2 linked regions of the Homo sapiens genome follow. The gene in region 1 interacts genetically with each later gene. Each region holds a gene or a part of one and is shown on either strand. Other genes may lie near its edges. The genes, in order: PMCH and NPY.

Evidence for each region.
Region 2: of PMCH (region 1) and NPY, changing one enhances a phenotype caused by changing the other (phenotypic enhancement), as found in Homo sapiens cells (one study listed by BioGRID).

The regions. Positions count from the first base shown.
Region 1 is NC_000012.12:102,194,342-102,204,526, reverse strand, and holds PMCH (pro-MCH preproprotein), read left to right. Parts: upstream 1-6,693; 5' UTR 6,694-6,756; coding exon 6,757-7,005; intron 7,006-7,006; exon of another isoform or gene 7,007-7,355; coding exon 7,356-7,554; coding exon of another isoform or gene 7,555-7,562; exon of another isoform or gene 7,563-7,825; coding exon 7,826-7,875; 3' UTR 7,876-8,068; downstream 8,069-10,185. Other genes in the region: PARPBP (PCNA-interacting partner), read right to left, coding at 8,236-8,576, 9,080-9,215. UniProt on the Homo sapiens protein: MCH may act as a neurotransmitter or neuromodulator in a broad array of neuronal functions directed toward the regulation of goal-directed behavior, such as food intake, and general arousal. May also have a role in spermatocyte differentiation.
Region 2 is NC_000007.14:24,277,706-24,289,097, reverse strand, and holds the start of NPY (pro-neuropeptide Y preproprotein), read right to left. Parts: upstream 4,909-11,392; 5' UTR 4,823-4,908; intron 3,858-4,822; coding exon 3,670-3,857; intron 1-3,669. UniProt on the Homo sapiens protein: NPY is implicated in the control of feeding and in secretion of gonadotrophin-release hormone.

The sequences.
Region 1 (10,185 bases):
TCTATTTTATTCCATACTGTTTACAGCATGTAAATCCTTTTGTTACTTGAGTCCCACAAATTCAGCATAGCCACTTCTTATCATGCTACAATATCTTCCATCTTTAAATAGCAATAGCCAACTCTCTTCCATCTACAATCTAATTTTTCTGCATTCTTCAGTGTAAATCGGTGACATACTATTTATATTCACTGTTTCCATTTGTTCTCTTTCCATTCTTATTAAATTCTCTCCTATCAAGGTTGAATCTCTACCAGTGTCATTGAAACTGCTTCATTAAGGTCAGCAATGACTATCACATAGCCAAATCAAAGATAAATTCTCAGTTCTCATCTTACTCAACCAGTAGCATTCAGCACAGCCAATCATTGTGCTTTTCTATATTTGAGATGATCGTGTTTTTGTCTCCTGTATTCATTTACAGTGGTGAATTTTACCAATTTTTTTCTGAAAGTTCAATTTTACATTCCTGAAATAAACCTCACCTGGTCATGAAATTTTACCTTTTTCATAACTGGATTCTATTTGATAACATTTTGTTTAGGATTTTTACATCCATGTTCATTAGAAATATTGGCCTATAATTTTCCCTTCTTGTAATAGCATTATCAGGTCTTGGTACCAAATTTATGCTAGACTCATAAAAAGAGTTGGGAAGTGTCCGTCAGAAGTCAATCACAGAAGCAGAACAACACACATACATATTCACATATACAGAAATATATACACAATTTGTTACATAAATCTGTCTCATGCAATTGTGAAAGCTAATTAAGCAATATTAAGCAGATCATTCCATCTAATGCTGGAGTCCACAGGGCAGGCTGCCAGGAAGGAAAGATGGATGTAAAGTAGGGAAGAAGAAGAACATACTGGAATTCACCAGCATGAGCTGAAACCCATGAGGATAGACTGAAACTCATATCATATCTTGCTGCATCTGACCTCAATGGTATGGATGTCCTCAGGACAGCTAGTCTCCTTTGTCACAGAACTGCACACATGTGTCCCAGGAGTCAGAGAAACTGAAAGTGGATCCAGCGAAAGTGGAGCAGTCGCAGGTCTGACTGCTGCAGAGCCAACGACATGAGCCAGCAGATAAGCGACATCATGTGTGAACCGTACGTGACATCTGCTTCACTTCTGCTCTCCAATCTTATACAGGAATGTCTCATGTGGCCCACTCCAGTTGGAAACATAGATAAAGAGAAGAAAATTCTGGGGTTGGGGGGAATTTCTGGGGTGGGAGGAATATATATGTAATATATATAACTCTTACAACTCAGTAATAAAAAGAAACATCCCTCGCCCAACAAAATGAACAAAAGATCTAAACAGACACTTCACAAAAGAAAATATATGAATAGCTAACAAGCACATGAAAAAGTGCTCAACATCATTAGTTATTAGGAAAATGTAATTAAAACACGATATCACTACTCATCTACCAGAATGGCTAAGATTAAGACTGACAACATCAAATGCTGGTGAGGATGTGGAGCAACCAAAGCTCTAATACAGTCTTTGTTGAAGTATAAAATGGTACAATCACTTTGGAAAATAATCTAACAATTTCTTACAAAATTAAAGATACATCTATCTTATATCCTAGCAATTCCATTCCTATATATTTACCCAAGAGAAATAAAAACACATGTCCACAAAAAGACTTGTGCAAGAATGTAGATAGTGTTATTCGTAATAGCCAAAAACTGGATACAATTCAAGAGTCCATTAACAGGAAAAGAGACAAGTCAATTGTAGTATATTTATACAACGGTAATAAAAAAGGAAGGAACTACTGCTTCTTACAACATTAAAGATGAATGTCAAACATGCTGAGTGAAAGAGGCCTTCCATAAAAGACGTCATACTGTATATTTCCAAAATAGGCAAAACTAATTCACAGCAGAAGAAATTAGAACAGTGATTGTCTAAGAGCAGAGTTGGAATGACGGGTGGGAGTGGGGAAAATGGTGGTACATGTAAACTCTAACAAGGTAAGACATAACTTTCTGGGGTGATGGCAATGTCTTGTATCTTGAAAGGACTTTGGGTTTCATAAGCAAACACATTTGTCAAAAATTAGCAAATATGCACTTATAGTTTATGCATTTTACTTTCCATAAATTTTACTTCAAAAAAAAGCTGTAAACAACTATTAAATTCCAGTTAATGATACGTATGTTGAAGTATTTCATGAAAAGCATACTGATATATGCAATATCCTTTGAAATGCATTAAAAGAATAAGATGATTAATAAAGGGATGAAGGGATAGAAGTAAAACGTTAATGGTAAACGCTAGGTGAAAGTGTATGGGTTGTTTACTATAGAAATCTGAGAAGGAATTTTAAGTTTTCTTATATCTTTTGATAATTTATATAAGTGAGCAATCTTGTTTTTACACTCATACAATTAGCCACTAAGAAATTGATGATTCTCAGTAAGCCAATGGCCAATTGCCATTTAATTTACTGGTGACACATAGCAAAGATGTGTTAATTGGAACAAAGAGAAATTTAATAAAGTGACTTGCAAATATACAGTGTTAGCAGTAGTTCAACAGAAAATGAAGATCATATTTTATATAAGCCTTTTGCCTTTGTAAGGTTTACTGAACCACCCAAGCCCATCTGGCAATAGTTTTACTTCTCCAAAGTTCCCTTCTACTACTTGGGGACATACCATTTTCAGCATCAATGAAAAAGAAGTCTACTATGCTCCACTGCACATCACAGTAACCAAAGTTTTTTTTAAAAAAAGTTATCATTAAAAAAATTGGAAACTATCTCCATAATTAAATGGTTATGGCAAAACCTCATAATGCTCAGAGGCTATGACAGTTTAAACAAAATAAAACATTAACTTCTCTAAACCGTCAAAATCATTTGGATTTGGTCCCAATTTTGAGTGAAGATCAGCCAAGCCAATTCATCCAGTGGAAATTTAAAACAAAGTACATAATTATTAATATTTATTACCCTCCCACAACAGCATCTAAGAAAAAAGATTTCCATTAACAAGGACTTTTTTTTTTTTTTTTTTTTTTTTTTCCAGACAGAGTCTCGCTCTGTCGCCTGGGCTGGAGTGCAATGGCACCATGTTTGGTTCACTGCAACCTCCGTCTCCTGGGTTCAAGCAATTCTCCTGCCTCAGCCTCTCCAGTAGCTGGAATTACAGGCACCCACCACCATGCCCAGCTAATTTTTATATTTTTAGTAGAGATGGGGTTTCACCATGTTGGCCAGGCTGGTCACAAACTCCTGACCTCAGGTGATCCACCCACCTCGGCCTCCCATGGTGCTGGGGTTACAGGCGTGAGCCACCGTGCCCAGCCTAACAAGGACTTTTATAGATTAAACAGGCACATCCAAACCAGGTTCAAACCAAGGGAAACAAAGTAGGGCACAACTAACAACATTAAAAAGATAAGGAAGCTCTAAGATCAAAGAAGTCAAGGGATGTCAGAGTCCTTTGTTTATAATTATAATCACAAAACATTTACTGAGAAAGATCTTAATAGTCCCCGAGAAAATCAGCAGTTAAGTCTACCTCAGATAAAAAGTACTTAAGTGAAATGGACAAATTATACAATAATGTAAATTCCTAAAACAAACTAAAAAAGAAACAGAGAAGCTAAATGTTACTACAGCTACTGAAGAAAGTACATCAATTCTTAACAACAAAAATCCTACCAAGAAAACACCAAACCCAAAGTCTAACAAGAGAGAAAAGAAAGAAGGATAAATCTTGCCCTCAATGTAAGAAATTGGTACAAACTTAATATCAAACCAAAGTCAATATAAAAAAGGAAAATTACAAATCAATCTTACTCATAATAAATGTAAAATGTACTAAATCAAATATTGCCAAATTGAATCCGATAATTTAAAGGTTTCTTCATGAACACATGGTTAGTTTAACATTAGAAAAATCTGTTAATATTTCCAAAGACTGAAGGAGAAAATGATCTGGTCATCTCAATATATGCAAAAAAAGCATTCAATAATATTCAACAACAATTCATGATAAAAACTATTAGTAAGCCAGAAACAAAAGAGAACATCCTGTACTTTATAGCAAGTATCTATAAGAAACCTACAGCAAACATTACGCTCAGTGGTGAAGCATTAAAATCATTATCTGTAAAATCAGTAACACTGTAAAGATATCTCTTCTCTCCATTTTCAGTATTTACTGGAGGCTTTGGCCAGTGTGTATGAACACATGAACAGACACAAAGACATGTATACACAATATAGATGAAGTTAGGAGAAAGAGATAAAATGCCATTATTTTATCATTTATATCAATTGTCTTCATACAAAATCCCAAAGAATCTATACATTTATAAACAATTAAAAAGAAAAAAAAATAAGAGTTTAGAAAGTTTTTTTCTGTTATCAAATTACTATGCACAAGCCAAATGCACATGCACATACCAGCAATAATGTTAGAAAGATCATTTCAAAATACAATTTATAATAACCAAAAATAAGAAATTCAATTAAATTATAAAGAATTATAATTCTCTCAACAAAGGTATGCAAGACCTTTATGAAGAAAAGAAAATGTCATTAAAAGATTAAAGAAGAAAAAAAGATTAAAGAAGATCTAAGCAAATACAGAAAAATGTCATGCTCATAGATAATAAATTACCTTCAGGATATCAGTTCTTCTCCAAAATTAATCTATAAATCTATAAAACCAATGTGATTATAAGTTGAGCATCCCAAATCTGAAAAGCCAAAATCCAAAAATGCTCCAAAATCTGAAACTTGTTAAGCATTAACAATATGCTAAAAAATATATATTCATTGAAGCATTTCAGATTTCAGATTTTGGGATACTTAACTGATATAATGCAAATGTTCCAAATTCTGAAAAAAATATCCCAAATCCAAAAATACTTCTGGTCCTAAGCATTTCAGATAAGGGATACCTAACTAGAACCTTAATATCCTGTCAAGTGTTCTTACGGAACTTGAAAAGCTGATTTTAAGATTTATATGGAAAAGAAATGACTAAGAATAGCTAAGGAACTGCTGTAAAAGAAAAACATGTGGGTAAGTAGAGGGCTGGGAAATTTGACCAGATATTAAAAATTATTTTAAAGTTATATTAATACTGTAGATTTGGCTGTGGAATAGAACGTTCTGAAAGGAGCCCACACATATATAGAAATCTGATATACTGTAGAGATGGCACTGCAGATTAGTGGGGACAGGATGACTTCTTCAAGAAATATATAAGGACATTGGAAAAAGTAAAATTACATCTCTATCTTATATCATACACAAAATTACAGATGAATTACAAACCTAAACATGAAAGTCAAAATATTTAAACTTTTAGAAGAAAATATATGAAAACACGTTAATAATCTAAGGATTGAGAAGGATTTCTAAAAAAAAACAACACATTAAAAGTAGTTGCCATAAAGAAAAAAGAAAAATATTTAAACATTAAAATTAATCAGTTTGGTTCACCAAAAGACACCAGAGGGGTTGAAAATATGTCACAAACTGAGCGAAAATAATTGAAACATATATAACTAACAATTAATATCCAGAATATATAAAGAACTCCCATAAATAAATTAGAAAAAGACAACCCAATAGAAAAATGGACAAAGCCAAAAAAGAAAAAAAAAAAAAGCATTTAACATAAGAGGAAACATAAATGGCTCAGAAACATATGGGAAGACACTTAACCTCTTTGGTAATTAGGAAAATACAAATTAAAAGGACAATGAGACACAAGAGTCAGCTAGGACATGGAACAATGGAAATTCTCATACCCTGCTTATCGAGGGCACAAATCGCTTACAACTATGTTGGAAAACATTTTGGCATTAGTAAAGCTGAACATATACATACTCCATGATCCAGTAATTCCATACTGAGAAATATACTCTAGAAAAATTCTTACATATATGTACCAGAAGACATATAAAAGAATGTATTATCTTATTCATTGGGGTCAAAATTAGAAATTAACTCTGAAATGTTTAATTAAAAGTCATACAACATAAACTCATCATCCAAAAGTAATGTTTATGGGCACATAAATATTCTTTTCATGGACTAATTCATTAATTTCTAAATTCATTAATAAATATTTGTACATATTATCCTTTTGTAAATGCAGAGATAAAATACACCTGACAGGTCAATTTTTGATATAGCATGAATGGCTTTTTGTTCACACTGACAGGCATATGTACTTTAATCACCAAAAACTATATCAAGTATTTATAAAAGAAAGTCTCTTTTGAGGATTATTTCAGTTTAATCAGGATTAAAAGGAAATAAAACTTTATCCTTATCATCCTTGAGTGAAATAACTTGAGTTTTAATATCTTTACTTAATCAGAAAATACACAAAAGGAAACAATAATATAGAGAGAGCCTGATGTCCTGTGGTCTTCCTTAATAACAACCCATTTTCAAGAGACTATAATCTACTCAACAGAAAGCATTCTACCAAGGATCTTAGTCAGATTCTGAGAAAATTCACACTCAAAATAAACAATGTGTCACTAAAACCAAAACAATGTAGGTATTAGCAGCTGCATAAAGGTTAGCCTCAATCTAATGAGTCATTTCTAAAATGATGAAAAGTATAATTCTTTGAAGTGCTTTCTATTCAAGCTAGAAAATATATAAAGATACAGAATCGTTTACCAAGCAGGCTGACAGAGAAATTTTTCATTTTCTTTCTTGTTTGACTGTATGCAAACATCAAACTAAGAATGGCAAAAATGAATCTCTCTTCCTATATATTAATACTAACTTTTTCTTTGTTTTCTCAAGGTATTTTACTTTCAGCATCCAAGTCCATAAGAAATTTAGATGATGACATGGTATTTAATACATTCAGGTTGGGGAAAGGCTTTCAGAAGGAAGACACTGCAGAAAAATCAGTTATTGCTCCTTCCCTGGAACAATATAAAAATGATGAGAGCAGTTTCATGAACGAAGAGGAAAATAAAGTTTCAAAGGTAAGTGGCAATGTGACTTGTCGTTTATTTCAATGAAAATTTAAATGATTCTTACAAATCCTCTGAAAAGTAAAACTGATACTTTTATAAACAGAAGTATATGCAAACAGTCACAATATGCATTAGGACGACTGACGATATTTCTTACATGCCAGGTAGTTCTTCCATCCCAGCAAACACCTCTTATCTGAAAGTGTTTTTTCTCCTATAAATTTGCATCTAAGGTATTTTTAAAAAGTCAAAAACAGTGCAGAGTAACTTTGAATTGATCAACAAGAATATTATACAATTGTATTATAGTTCCACTCCGAATACGATAGCTAAAAACCAAATCAACCTTCTCTTTACAGAACACAGGCTCCAAACATAATTTCTTAAATCATGGTCTGCCACTGAATCTGGCTATAAAACCTTATCTTGCACTAAAAGGATCTGTAGCTTTCCCAGCTGAGAATGGAGTTCAGAATACTGAATCAACACAAGAAAAGAGAGAAATTGGGGATGAAGAAAACTCAGCTAAATTTCCTATAGGAAGGAGAGATTTTGACAGTGAGTAGTCTTTTCAAAATTCAATTCTTACATCCTACCACCATTAAACAGAACTCTGAGTTAAAGTGAATTTGGATGCAATCATAACAAAATCAAATAAGACCATGGCTCAATTACACCTGCCAAAAATGTGGGATTAAATAGCAACAATTAATTATTATCATTTTGGTTTACTCAGAATTAGTTATACTAGATCCATTCTTTTTTTCTTAATAAATTTTGTGTGATAATTATAGTCCTTTAAACAATTTAAACTTTCTTCTTCCTTCAGTGCTCAGATGTATGCTGGGAAGAGTCTACCGACCTTGTTGGCAAGTCTGATACCTGTTGGTCCACATCATCTTTTCAGAAGAAAATAAAAGCATTTAATTGCCAATGGGAGGAGAAGCCCATACTGCTACTATAACTTGTGTATGTTAAATGTCTGTTTTAAAAGAAAGTAGTGTTAAGATGTATCAGTAACTGAAATGATATGCTTTCTCTGTGCATTAAACTTTGTGAAAATTCTGCATAATTATGACTTACTAGTATTTTTAAACAATGCTTAACATACTAACCTTACATACACTGTAGACCAAAATAATAAATCATCATAATTTACACCTTGATCTCTTAAAAATTAAGCATGTCTTTGGTGAATGGTTTATAGATACATAAACCTAAAGCATATAAGACACAAATTTATAGTCTAAAAAACTGAGTTAACTTTGCCTGGCCAGAAATCAACTTGTCCTTGGCAGTACATTTATTACTTTTTGCTACTTTAGCTAGTTTGCCGTACAATCTATTCTGTGAATCATTTGATTTCTTAGGTATTTTAGCATTTTTATGTTGAGGTGGTTCATTTCTATTATCACAGAGAATATTTTCACCATCCAAATCCACCTGTTTCCTTTTTGAGCTTTTATTTCCTGTCTGACTGGTTGATTTTCTTGATACTTTTTCATTTTTACTTCTGTCCAGATGAACATTTCCAAAACTCGTTCCAATTGTTGATCTTCCAACAGATGGATTTACACCCTCTGTTATGCAAGATAAAAAGGGGAAAGGAATTACATGATATTGAGTATTAATATTTACGAGAACTTTACAATAAACTTTAAAAATGGCTAACGAATATTCAAATTTTTAAAGTAAAATAATGCTATAAATAATATGATTGACAAATATAGCTACATTACTATCCTATTACTTTTCATTTTATCATAGCACCTCTGAGTTAGCTTTGGCCAGTAATCAACTTGTCAGCCCTATTAAGAAATATTTGTTTGAATGCATGACATTTAATCCTTAAACATATGCTACAAATTACTTCTTAAATACATTTAGTTAAATCAAACTGTGTCCTATTCCTATCGATAAATTTGTACTTAGATTTAACTTTTTAAATAAACTGAGGTCTTTAAAAATATTACCCTTTACATTTCATAGTACTTTGCAAAAATAACCTAATTTTACTTAAGTTAAAACTAATTAGTAGACTAGAATTAAATTGTTATTTAATTGCACAAATAAGGTCAATTACCAGAAAGGTCATTTTCCATGTAAAGAACACACAAAGGCTTTGATGCTAAATTAACATTATTCCAATTATCCTTGCTTATCATGTAGTCATCTTTATAAGTACAAGCAAATTGGGATCTAATTAAAGTTTGCTTCATCTAGTAACAGAAAGAAAGAAGAAAATATGCAAATTTATTCATTATTTTATTTCTTCATCTAGATAGACACACACTCTATAGTAATCAAGGTATAAAAATTTCCCTTAGAAATTCTATTACTCATTGAGAACCTCTCTCTAACCTTTTATATTTCATAGTTTGCAAACTCATTCATTGTTATGGCTAGCATTTTTGTTCTTTTCCAAAATAATAGCTTTATGTATATTTTTGATTTTTTTTTTGGTAACAGTTACAAAACAATCAATTTTAGACTCTTCGCAGGGCTTTGTTACATGTTCCTGTGTCAGCACTGCTTTGGAGCGTCTTATTGTAAGTAAAATAACAATACAGGTGATATACATAATCATAGAAAAATACAAGTTCTTCATCCTAAGAAGAACACACTCTTGGAAAAAAAATAGCATATGGAATTCAAGAAATTAGGGAGGGAAGAAATGCTAAGATGAAAAAAAGAACTAAGTGAGGTCAATCAAAAACAGGAAACTAGCAAAGAAACTGCAAGATAAAACAAAATGATATAGGAAAGACATTATTTCTCGAGTATTTAGGAAAACAAGAAAGATGATTCAATGTATCAGTCTAGAAAGATTTGACCAAGTGACTTAATGGTCAGAAATCCAAAGTATACTCTTGCATTTATCTTCAAACATCAAATAGGAGGGCCTAACTTTCTACATAAATAGGAGAAAATTACAAAGATGAACTCAATTCTTGATCACTGAAAAGGATGCCAAAAAAAGTAGTTTTGGAAATTTGTTCCACAAACATAAACCAGTGAGCTATTGGGGATAGAAATTAATTTTAGAACAAAGTAGCCTATACAAATAATGCCAATTTCAACAATTACAAATGATGTGTAATACCATTCAGGTTTAATGGAGAGATGTCTCCAAATAATTAGAAGTCACCTGAAATCATTTTCTGACATAGACAAAGTTTCAAATACATA
Region 2 (11,392 bases), on another chromosome or scaffold:
TGATACACAGCAGTTTAAATCTTAACAAGGAGACCAGATGATATTTCAAAGACAGTCCTAGAAAAAAAAAATCAGCAGATTGCCGTCCAAGACCCACCTGTGTCTTTGAATCCCAATTTTCTCGTTTGTAAAACAACCCCTGCTTAAATCAGAGTCTTTGTGAACATCCAGTGTGAAATGTGAGTCACAATGCTTTCAAAGTGACAAAGTGATACACGCATGCAAATTACTGCTGTTGAAATGCATCCATTCTTCTGGCTACCAACAGACCCTGGGTCTTATATTTTCCATATTCATTCAAGGTGCCAAATGCTAAAGTCTTTCCTAATGCTGTGATTTTAGCCTCCCTGTAAGTCTAAAGGAATCTAACTGATCCATGGAAATGTTCTTTTTTTTTTTTTTTTTTTTTTCTCCTGTAGCAGGATATGGGTGAGACAATACATACAGGTAAGGTTTCGTTTACCTGTGAGGGTAGTATATGCTCCCCACTCCAGAACACTACAAAACGGCCAGACAAGTCTATACCAAATTGCGTCTTTTGAAGAGGCCATTTTTCTCTTTCTCAGAAAAGGCATTGGACACCATTCGCCACTTTGTTTAGAAATAAATTAGTCTGGTATGGATTGGTTAATAGGTCCAACAACTGAACAAAGCTGACAGAGGGTATATTCTAATTGCCAAGCAAAATTATATCTAAATTTTTTGGAAATATTTTCTATGACTGTTCTTTTGCTGAGACTCAAGGGAAGCAAAAACAAAACAACTCCCTGTCCCACTCCCATCATGTGTGAGATTTTCTCAAAGATTTTCTGGAGTTGCGATATTAGACTATAGGTGTCTGCTTATACTTATTTATTCTGTCCATCCATTGGTTTTACTAATCGTAAAAGTCTAGGGCAACTGTAACTCATTTATCTTCATCATGCTCCAGTGAGTAAAAGAACTGCCAACTTTTTATCCAATTTACCAGTAAAGAACCTAAATCTGAAATAGGAGGATTTGCACAGTCATAATCTTGCATCCAGTTCAGTACTGTTCACTCTTCTTCCTTCTTTAATTAATTCTGGATCATCCTTCCCCTCTACAATGCTGTAACTTTCAAAGATTGAGTCCTTAGAGTAAAGATTCTCAAACCTGGCTGCACATTAGAATCACCTGGGGAGTGTTAAAAACACACTCTAAAGCCCAGGCCCCATCCCAGAGGGTCTGATTTAATTGGTCAGGGGTGGATCCCAGCATCAGTGTATTTTAAAAGCTCCCCTGATAATTTTAATGTGCAGCCAGGAAGGAGAAACACTAATCTAAGGCTGAGTTTCTCTGGGACTGGCTATTCTGTGTAATGGGGGCTGTCCTGGGCATGGTAGGATATTTAGCAGCCTCCTTGGCATCTATACACCTAGGTACCAGCAGTGCCCACCTCCAGTTGTGAAAACCAAAAATGTCTCCAGACACTGCCAAATCACACCTGGGGAGCATAAAATCACCCCCAGTTGAGAACCACTGATTTAGGGGGCTATATAAATAAATTGTAGGAGACCCACACTCTAGAATAAGTAATGCAGCTTCCAGAAGCAATGAGCCAGGGGTATATATACAGCAAAAGGAATATAAGCACAAATTGAGTGCAGGGGGAATGCTGGTGGCGGGGGGCGGGGGGAAAGAAAGATAATGATATCAGATTATATCTATACTAAATTAAAGCACATCCACAAATGACCCTGTAATTTTCAGAAACGCACATAGGAGTGGGTGTCTGTGGTGGGAAGGAGAAGATGGACGTACATTAAGAGCCTCTGCTGGTTTCTAAGAAGGAGTTTATACAAAGATGAGACAGGAAACTCTGCCTCAGAGACCAGCTCATTCCCATCTAAGCTGAATCTCTTGCCATGAAACCCAAGTCCCTTTCCTTTATGTTTTTTTCTCATCAAACATGTTGGAGATAACACTGCCTGTTGATGGTGGTGACAACATCCAAAGACACTCAAAGGAGGGCTCCAATTCCATAATTCCTATAAAAATAGCTTCCATGAAATGTCATTAGCTTCATGATTTGTGAAATGAAGATAATTATACTCCCTTCAAAGCTTTGAGGTAACGACTGAATGAGAGAATGCCTAGGAAAACATTTTAAAATGCTAGAGCTTTGTAAAATGGTAAAGCTTTATGGCAATCATCTTCGGAAAAATGAGTTCTACTGTGTATTATGCTACAGCTAAATAACTAACAAAGGTTTTTCTAGAAAAAACAGTTAATATCTTTTTGTTTGTACAAGTTCTCTTTGATCTGCATGACGGCATAACATAGCAAGAATTTGAATCAATTAACTTTCTGGGAAGTATGGAATATAAAATATTATTGCTTTTTGCTAATTAAAATGATCAGATTTCAAGGGATCACAAACAACTACTATTTAATTCTGGCATTTTCATGTTTTTCAGATTCTATATAAATTGGGGCTTTTTCAAAAGTGTTTTAGGATGTTAAATACCTTTTTGATGAAACAGGAAAAAGCAAACTTTATTTTAAAAGTATAAATCTTCCCCCCTTTTGGATCCTTTCCAACTACTCCCTGACTTGTAAACAGTAAAAATATGGACTAAATAAATAAATATATAAACCCCACAATACTTTAAACATATAATTTAAACATGTTAACTAACATTAATGCTTCTAAAGGGCTTATCCTTTAGATACGGTCAAATGACTAAAATCATTTAATCTCAGTAATTAAAATAAGATATTAAATGATTTAGAACTAAGATCAACCAATTTTGAAAACAAAATTTAAATCCTATGTAATTTGTAAAATAGTTTGGATTTGATTTTTCCCTTAATTGTCAATGTTGAGAGTGAAAATATGGCATTTCATTTTGACTTTCGGAATGTTCAGAATAAAGTTTACAATTTCTCAGATTCCATGTAATCCCTGAATTCATCCTAAAGTTACTGGACCAACGTAAGTTTCTTCTTAATGAAATACCAAGTGGGCACTTTCTTTTCAGAATTCACCAGCTATAAAATAGGGAGACCTCTGCATTTTAGATAAACTGTTTTCAGGCTAAATCTCTAATTATTGGGACTAGAATTTTCAAATATGGGAGTGAGACTGCAAAAAAAACACAGTGAAGAAGAAAAGAAAATAGCTCTATTTGTCTTTTTCTAAATACTGTCATTCAATTAGCCCTGGGCAGGCCGGAAAGTCTGACAATGTCTGTGGCAACCCTGCAGTTTACTCCTTGGTTTGGTTTTCTTTGGTGGTCGTTCTGTTTCTCCTAGACACCTTGCTAGCGTTTCCCCCTACAGCATTTCTCTGGCGCATTCTTGCCCCTTTCACTGGGTACTTTCGAGATTTCTGGACCGGGCCCCACTGCCGTAAGAACCACAACAAACCATAAGAGGTGAGTGAGAGGAGATTGCCAGCCTACCAGCCTGGGGAACCTGAATCTGGGGATCACGACTCTGTGACTGTAGTTGCACAAAATGGAAGGTACCCATTTTGTGTAGAGTGTGCCCTGTACAAACATTTACCTAGAGCTGACTAAGTGCCTGATACTGTCCTGCCCTGGGATAGAGCGAAGGAAAAGAAACAATCCCTTTCCCTAACATCCCCAGGATCTCCTGGTGTGCAGGCACTGGCGCTCCCGGAATCGGTCCCGCGGTCCCACCCACCTCTGCCTGGTGATGAGGTTGATGTAGTGTCGCAGCGCCGAGTAGTATCTGGCCATGTCCTCCGCTGGTGCGTCCTCGCCCGGGTTGTCCGGCTTGGAGGGGTACGCCTCGGCCAGCGCACCCAGGCACACGAGCAGGGACAGGGCGAGGGTCAGTCCGGACAGCCCCAGTCGCTTGTTACCTAGCATCTGCAGGCACAGAAGGCTCAACGGACGGGCTTGGGGATTCAGAGCACCCACGCGCAGCACCTCCCTCCTCTGCCCCCCGCGCTCCTCCTCCTGCTACCACACGCGACCCCCAATCCGCTCTCGTCCCAGTCCCGCAGAGAGAACCCAGGAGTGGCTAGCACCACCTTGCGGGCTCCGGGCGCCGTCCGGTCGGGACCTGCCCCTCTGCTCCACCTGAAAACTTCGCGCAACTTCGTTCGAAGTCTCAGGGACCAAGAAGCGCGCGGCGAGAGTGCAAGGTGGGGGCCCCGCCAGTTTAGCATTCAAAACCGAATTGGAAGTTCTTCCTGCTGGGTCACTTTTCTCCCTTCTTGCCCAAACTCTTGTCTGGGAAGAAAAGTTTCTTCTCTGTTACTTCTGGTCTGCCTAGCTTCAGGGGATCAACGCTGACAGCAGAGATCACCTCGGGGTGACGACTGCGGTGGGGAAGGGGAAAGAGAATTGCTCCCTGGGCCAGAATTGCTCCAAAGAGATTTGGAGCCCAAGAATCCAGGGAGGTGGCAGGGCGCGGGGCTCTAGAGCTCCAGGGATTCCTCACTCGATGGCGCTGCCGGGGAAACCTTCCTACCGCGCACCGCTTCCTGGGCCTCAAGGCGGCGACCCGCAGGGAGACCGCCAGCTGCCTTGGGATAGCGGTCCCGGGTTCTCCCTCCATATCTGCTAAAAGGTAACTCAGAAGAACCGCCCAGCGGGAAGGGCCCGGGAGAAGGGCCGTGGACAATCAGAGGGGAGCAGAGGAACAAGTGGAATTTAGCCGCCAAGAGGGCTGGTCCGCGTCGGGGCGCGGAGCCGGCATAGTCCGCTGGGGAGTGGAGCGCGATCATCCCAGGGCCCCAGGGCTCCACAGAGCGGGAGGCTGCGTCTCTAGCAAGTTCGCGGGCGCCCCGTTCGCTCCCACCCCTAGACAGACGGGTCGTAGCACTCACGGTGGCTGGCGCGCGGGCGTGGCTGGGCGGCAAGTACTATGCTGTCGGGCGAGCGTCTCCGAGGGGTGAGAGCCAGCGGATGGGGTGCAGAGAGCGGGTCGCGACAGGGCTTTTATGGAGCTTCCTCGCCGCGGCAGGAGGGGCCTCGGGCAGTCACGCTTGGGTGACTCCCACCCGCCACTTCCCGCCCCTGAGTGGCGGGGGGAGGGGGCTGGAACCGCAGCCGCACGAGTGTCGACTTAGGGAGCCACCCACACCCCAACCCTCCCGCCCCAGGCACTGCCTGAAGAAGCGGGGCCTGGGACCGCGTGAGCGAGGCAGCGCACTCCGAGCGCGCTGGACAACACCAAAGCCCAAGTATCTGCCCTCGGGCAGTGCCCGATCCCTGCTTTCCTTCTTTCCTTCTTTCCTTCACGCCCCGTCTAGTCCTGCCAGAGATAGGAGCAGCCCAGACGATTCTTGTCTCCTGCCAACAGGACTACCAACCCACTGGGTGCCGGAGTAGGAAGCACCTGAATCCTCTTTGTGGTGGGGCATCTCCACGACTAGCGCGGCATCCTCGCCGGGCACAACTGCGCGCTGTTGGAGTGAGGCAACTGGGCGCACAGATTTTTCCTGTACTTAGAACAAGTCGGAGGCAGCTGCCGGAAGTCTCCGGCTAGAGGGTCCCAAAGCTGCGCTCCCCACCCCACCCCCGCCCGTGGTTTCAGGGGCTTCTGCCCCTTCTCTCAGCTGGTTTTTCTAGATCAGCCTTCCTCAAGTACTCGCTCAGACGCAGCGAGCCAGGCTCGGTCGAGACATGAGTGTGGCGACTCAAAATTCCCCAGAGGGGGAACACGGTAAACCTATTCCCCCAGTTTGCTGAAAAAGAGCCACGCTTCCAGCTTCTAGAGACTCTTTTAAGCTCAATTTTAAAAATATATATTTTTTCTTTTTTGGTCCAAAGTGACGGTGGTTAAATGAACAACAGTTTCTGTCTTATTTACTAACCCTTGTATAGTCCTATGTACGTTCAATTAACGTTGAGAATGTGGGTTCTGATTAAGATGAAACATGTTAAAAACGATGAACATTAATTTGCTCATCGCGTTAAACCTGTTGAATGAATATGCAAGATACAGAAACTATTATTACAGGATCAAGATTTTATGCAGTGGACTGAGATCTGAAAGTTCCGTGAATGAATGCTCCTGTATCTTTCTAAATAAAATGGCATTTTATTTCTAAATGAAATATAAGTCTGAATCTTTCTAAATAAAAAGGCATGTTGGGAAATTAAAGCATTAAGTTCCATGTTATTTTAATGCTAAAAGGACAAGTGATTCTGTTAAACTGACACTTAGTTTTTGTGCTGTTCCAACAGCATTGAATTAAATATCAAAAACCGTGAAGCAAACAATCCTTTGCATGTATGTGTTTGTGTGTTTGTGGGATCAAACTATAATTTTGGAGACCAACATCCCTTTCACTTGGCAACTGCTTCTCTTTCTGTATTACACAAACATATGCTGAGGACACAAAAATCAAGGCTCTCAGAGTTGCTCGGGGGTGCTTACAAGACACAGCCTTCGGTAAAAGTGCAAAACATCTTCTAACTTAGAGCTCTTCCTAGATAAAGGGAAAGTTACAGTCCACTTTTCAATAAAATAATCTTATTTTAGAGTGTATCACAGATTCATATCAATTAAAATCTGAACTTAAAATGTATCACTGAATTTGGGAAAAATTACTTCTAGGAAGGCCCACACCACTATTGAGAGAAGAACACTGTGGAGGCTTGATTAATTTAGCTTAAGATAATGTCATTGATTCTCAAGAATAAGAACTTATTCTGAGGGTTAAGGATTCAGAGAATAAAAAATAGGGGGTGATATGCCCTACATGTGCTTACATCCTTATCTCCTTTCTCTCCAGTCCAAGCCACATCCCCTGGCCAAAATACAAACAAAACCAACTGTTGGCAACTCAACCCTGCATCTTCTCCTAGCTGCTGAGCCATTTCTCTCCTTTGTTTCAAAGTCAAGTTGTTTATTTCTAACAGCTTTGTTAAGATAACATTGAGATACTGTTGAGCTTGTTGAGATTCAAAAGGAGGTGAATCAGTGGAGACTAGAGAAGGTAATGACCGAGAGAAGTCAAATAACCGGTAAAGGTCCATGTGGTTTGCAATTAGGAGGTCTTACTGATAGCAGGTTCATAGCTTGATTCAGATAGAACCTGGACCACATGAAACCCAGTGGTTTCATGACTAAACCTAAGGTAAAGAAGCAGAAGGAATGAATAGATACTGCTGAATATATACAAAGCTACAAATGTGTAAAATATTCAATTGGATATATTCTTACACATATGCATGTGTGTTATATGCTCAGGAAGCCATCACTGAAACCAAGAAAATGAAGATTATACATCACTTCCCCAAATTTCCACATGTACCTTTGTAATTCCTTCCTTTTGCCTCTTCCTCACCCCCTCCTCCATTGATCTGCTATCACTAGAGATTTGTTTGCGTTTTCTAGAATTGCACATAAATATAGTTCCACGGTAGGTACTCTTTGTCTGACTTCTTTCACTTAGCATCATTATTTTTGAATCCACTCACATTGTTAAATGTAGCAATAGTTTATTCTTTTTTATTGCTGGGCAGTATTTCATTATATGATATACTTCAAAATTTTTAATCAATTCTACTGCTCATGAATTTTTGGTTATTTTCACTTGAAACTTTTACGAATAAAGCTGCCTTGACATTCATATGCAAGTCTTTGTATGGACATAAAGCCTTTAATTCTCTTGGAAAATACTTAAAACCAGAATGGCTGAGTCAGACGGTGAGTGTATATTGGCCCACAGTTTGTTGGTGATCTGTTTTTGCTTCTGTTTTGCTCATTTTTTCCTTCATATTTTATTTTGGATAGTCTCTATTGCTATGTCTGTGAGTTCACTAATGTTTTCTTCTGTAATATCTGATTACTGCCAATCCTATCCAGTGTATTTTGCACCTTATACCTGGTAGCTTTCATCTCTAGAGTTTCAACTTGAATCTTTTTTTTAAGTTACAGGACAATATAAAGCAATGAATCTTTTTTATATCTTCCGTATCTAAACGTGTCCACTCTTCTCTCTAGCTTCTTGAATATACATTAATAATAACTTTTGTACTACTAACATCTGTGTGATTTTTGTATACTTTGGGTTGATTGATTTTTCTCCACATTATGGCTTATATTTTTCTTCTTCTTTGTGTGCCTGATAATTTTTGATAGGATGTCAGATATTGTGGATTTTACCTTGTTATTTGTTTTTTTGTCTTTCTATGACTGTTCTTGAGCTTGTTCTGAGACAATTAAAAATTTAAAGACAGTTTTATCCATTCAGGTCTTGGATGTGAGTTTTGTTAGGTGGGACCAGAGCTGGTTTTAGACTAGGTTTACTCTTTCCACACTTTGAGGCAAAATTCCTTCTTTTTACTTTAACTGGTAACTGACTTCCCCCCAACACGCACACCTCAAATTGCACAGCTCTCCCCTCTGGCTGTTCAGATAGACACTATTCCCAGCCCTTGGTCAGCATCAGACACAGTTTACCCTTATCTTTTTGTGTAGTTCTTTTCCTGGTCTCAGGTGGTTTGTTCTTGTGTATAATCTGATCAATAATCAACTAAATCCTCAAGGGGGACACCCTTCAGACTTTCAGAGTATTCTTTCTTTTACCTGATAATCTTCCTGTGGACACTAGCTGCCCTGGCTCCCTACACTTCCAGCCCCAGCTCCTTGGCCAGGATGATTCAATTCCTTCCTTCTGCACTGTAGCCTGGATGACTCCTTCAGGCAGTGTATTCTCATGCTGCTATGAAGAAATATCCAAGACTGGGTAATTTATAAAGGAAAGAGGTTTAATTGACTCACAGTTCTGTATGGCTGGAGAGCCCTCAGGAAACTTACAATTATGGTGGAAGGGGAAGCAAACACGTCCTTCTTCATATTGCAGCTGGAGAGAGAAGTGGCGAGCAAAGGGGAAAAAACCTTTTATAAAACCATCAGATCTTGTGAGAATTCACTCACTATCATGAGAACAGCAGCATGTAGGTAACTGCCCCCATGATTCAATTATCTCACACCAGGTCCCTCCCACAACACGTGGGGATTAAGGAAACTACAATTCAAGATGGGATTTGGGTGAGGACACAGCCAAACCATATCAGGCAGTGATCTGGGACCATTGTATGGCTCTTGTCATTTGTTTTCTATCTCTAAGATATTACTGTCCTTTACTGATGTCCAATGTTTTAAGTGTTGTTTCATCTATTTTTGTCTAGTGTTTTAGTTGTTTCAGCAGGGAGGGTAAATCCAGTTCCTGTTTCTTCATCTTGGCCAGAAGAGCAAGTCTTGTAGCAAGGCTTCTTTAAAAAGATGTTTCTATTCATTGTCTCTGGTTATTCACCATAGGTGTAGTCATGAAACCACTGTGATCTAGGTTCTATCTGAATCAAGTTATAAACCTGCTATCAGTAAGACCTTCTAATTGCAAACCACATGGATCTTTATCAGATATTTGACATCTCTTAACCATTACTTTCTCTTGTCTCTCTGATTCACCTCCTTTTTCTCTGAATGTACCACCATCTCCTTTGCTGACTCACCCTTCTGTACCCATAGTCTTAGCCTTAACCTTTCTACTGCACACATAAGCTCATCTACTCCTACAGCTTATGATCCTGAAATCTCTCCCTTCAGCTCAGATTTCATACCTGGAAACCAGGGCGATACGTCTAGCTCAGAAAAACTCCATCAAGGGCCTCAAATTTAGATTATCAAAGTGGAGCTTCCACTAACATGAATGTCTAATTAAATATCATATGAAGTGTAAAATGTTTTCAAAATTCTTCCATTGAACTATAAGGCCCCACATATTTTGGACCCTACATACCTCCTAGGCTCATCTAACATAATTTTTTTCTTCACTCCCTGTATTTCTGTCCATTGTCCTCCTTTCTGCTCCTTAAATATGCCAATCAGCTTTCCTATTTGGGCCTTCATTGTGCTGTGTCTGCTCTCTGAGATATTCTCTCTCCCTACTCTTTACCTGGCCAACACCTACACAACCTTCTGGGTTTACCTTGAAATATTTTCTGAGTGTTCTTTAGGTCCGTTCCAAGAGGCCAAATAGGAACAGCTCTGGTCTGCACCTCCCAGCTGATCGACGCAGAAGATGGGTGATTTCTGCATTTCCAACTGAGGTACCTGGTTCATCTCACTGGGACTGGGCGGACAAAGAGTGCAGCCCACGGAGGGCAAGTCAAAGCAGGGGTGGGCATCGCCTCACCCAGGAAGTGCAAGGAGTCAGGGGATTTCCCTTTCCTAGCCAAGGGAAGCCATGACTGACTGTACCGGGAAAATTGGGACACTGCCACCTAAATACTGTGCTGTTCCCACGGTTTTAGCAAACAGCACACCAGGAAATTATATCCCACACATGGCTCAGCAGGTCCCATGCCCACAGAGCTTTGCTCACTGCTAGCACAGCAGTCTGATATCGAACTACAAGGTGGCAAGCCTGGCTGGGGGAGGGGCATCTGCCATTGCTGAGGCTTGAGTAGGTAAACAAAGCTGCCAGGAAGTTCGAACTGAGCGGAGCCCACCACAGCCCAATGAAGCCCGCCTGCCTCTGTAGACTCCACCTCTGGGGGCAGGGCATAGCTGAACAAAAGGCAGCAGAAAGTTCTGCAGACTTAAACGTACCTGTCTGATAGCTCAGGAGAGAGCAGTGGTTCTCCCAGCATGGTTTTTGAGCTCTGAGAATGGACAGACTGCCTCCTCAAGGGGGTCCCTGACCCCTGTGTAGCCTAACTTGGAGATACCTCCCAGTAGGGACCAACTGACAACTCATACAGCCGGGTGCCCCTCTGAGACGAAGCTTCCAGAGGAAGGATCAGGCAGCAATATTTGCTGTTCTGCAGCCTCCACTGGTGATACCCAGGCAAACAGGGTCTGGAGTGGACTGCCAGCAAACTCCAACAGACCTGCAGCTGAGAGACCTGACTGTTAGAAGGAAAACTAACAAACAGAAAGGAATAACATCAACATCAACAAAAAGGACATCCACACCAAAACCCCATCTGTAGGTCACCACCATCACAGACCAAAGGTAGATAAAACCACAAAGATCAGGAGAAACTGGAGCAGAAAAGCTAAAAATTCTAAAAACCAGTGCGCCCCTTCTCCTCCAAAGGATTGCAGCTCTTCACCAGCAATGGAACAAAGCTGGACAGAGAATGACTTTGACAAGTTGACAGAAGTAGCCTTCAGAAAGTCAGTAATAACAAACTTCTCTGAGCTAAAGGAGGATGTTCGAACCCATTGCAAGGGAGCTAAAAACCTTGAAAACAGATTAGATGAATGGCTAACTAAAATAAACAGTGTAGGGAAGCCCTTAAATGACCTGAGGAAGCTGAAAACCATGGCAAGAGAACTACGTGATGCATGCACAAGCTTCAGTAGCTGATTTGATCAAGTGGAAGAAAGGGTATCAGTGATTGAAGATCAAATTAATGAAATGAAGCAAGAAGAG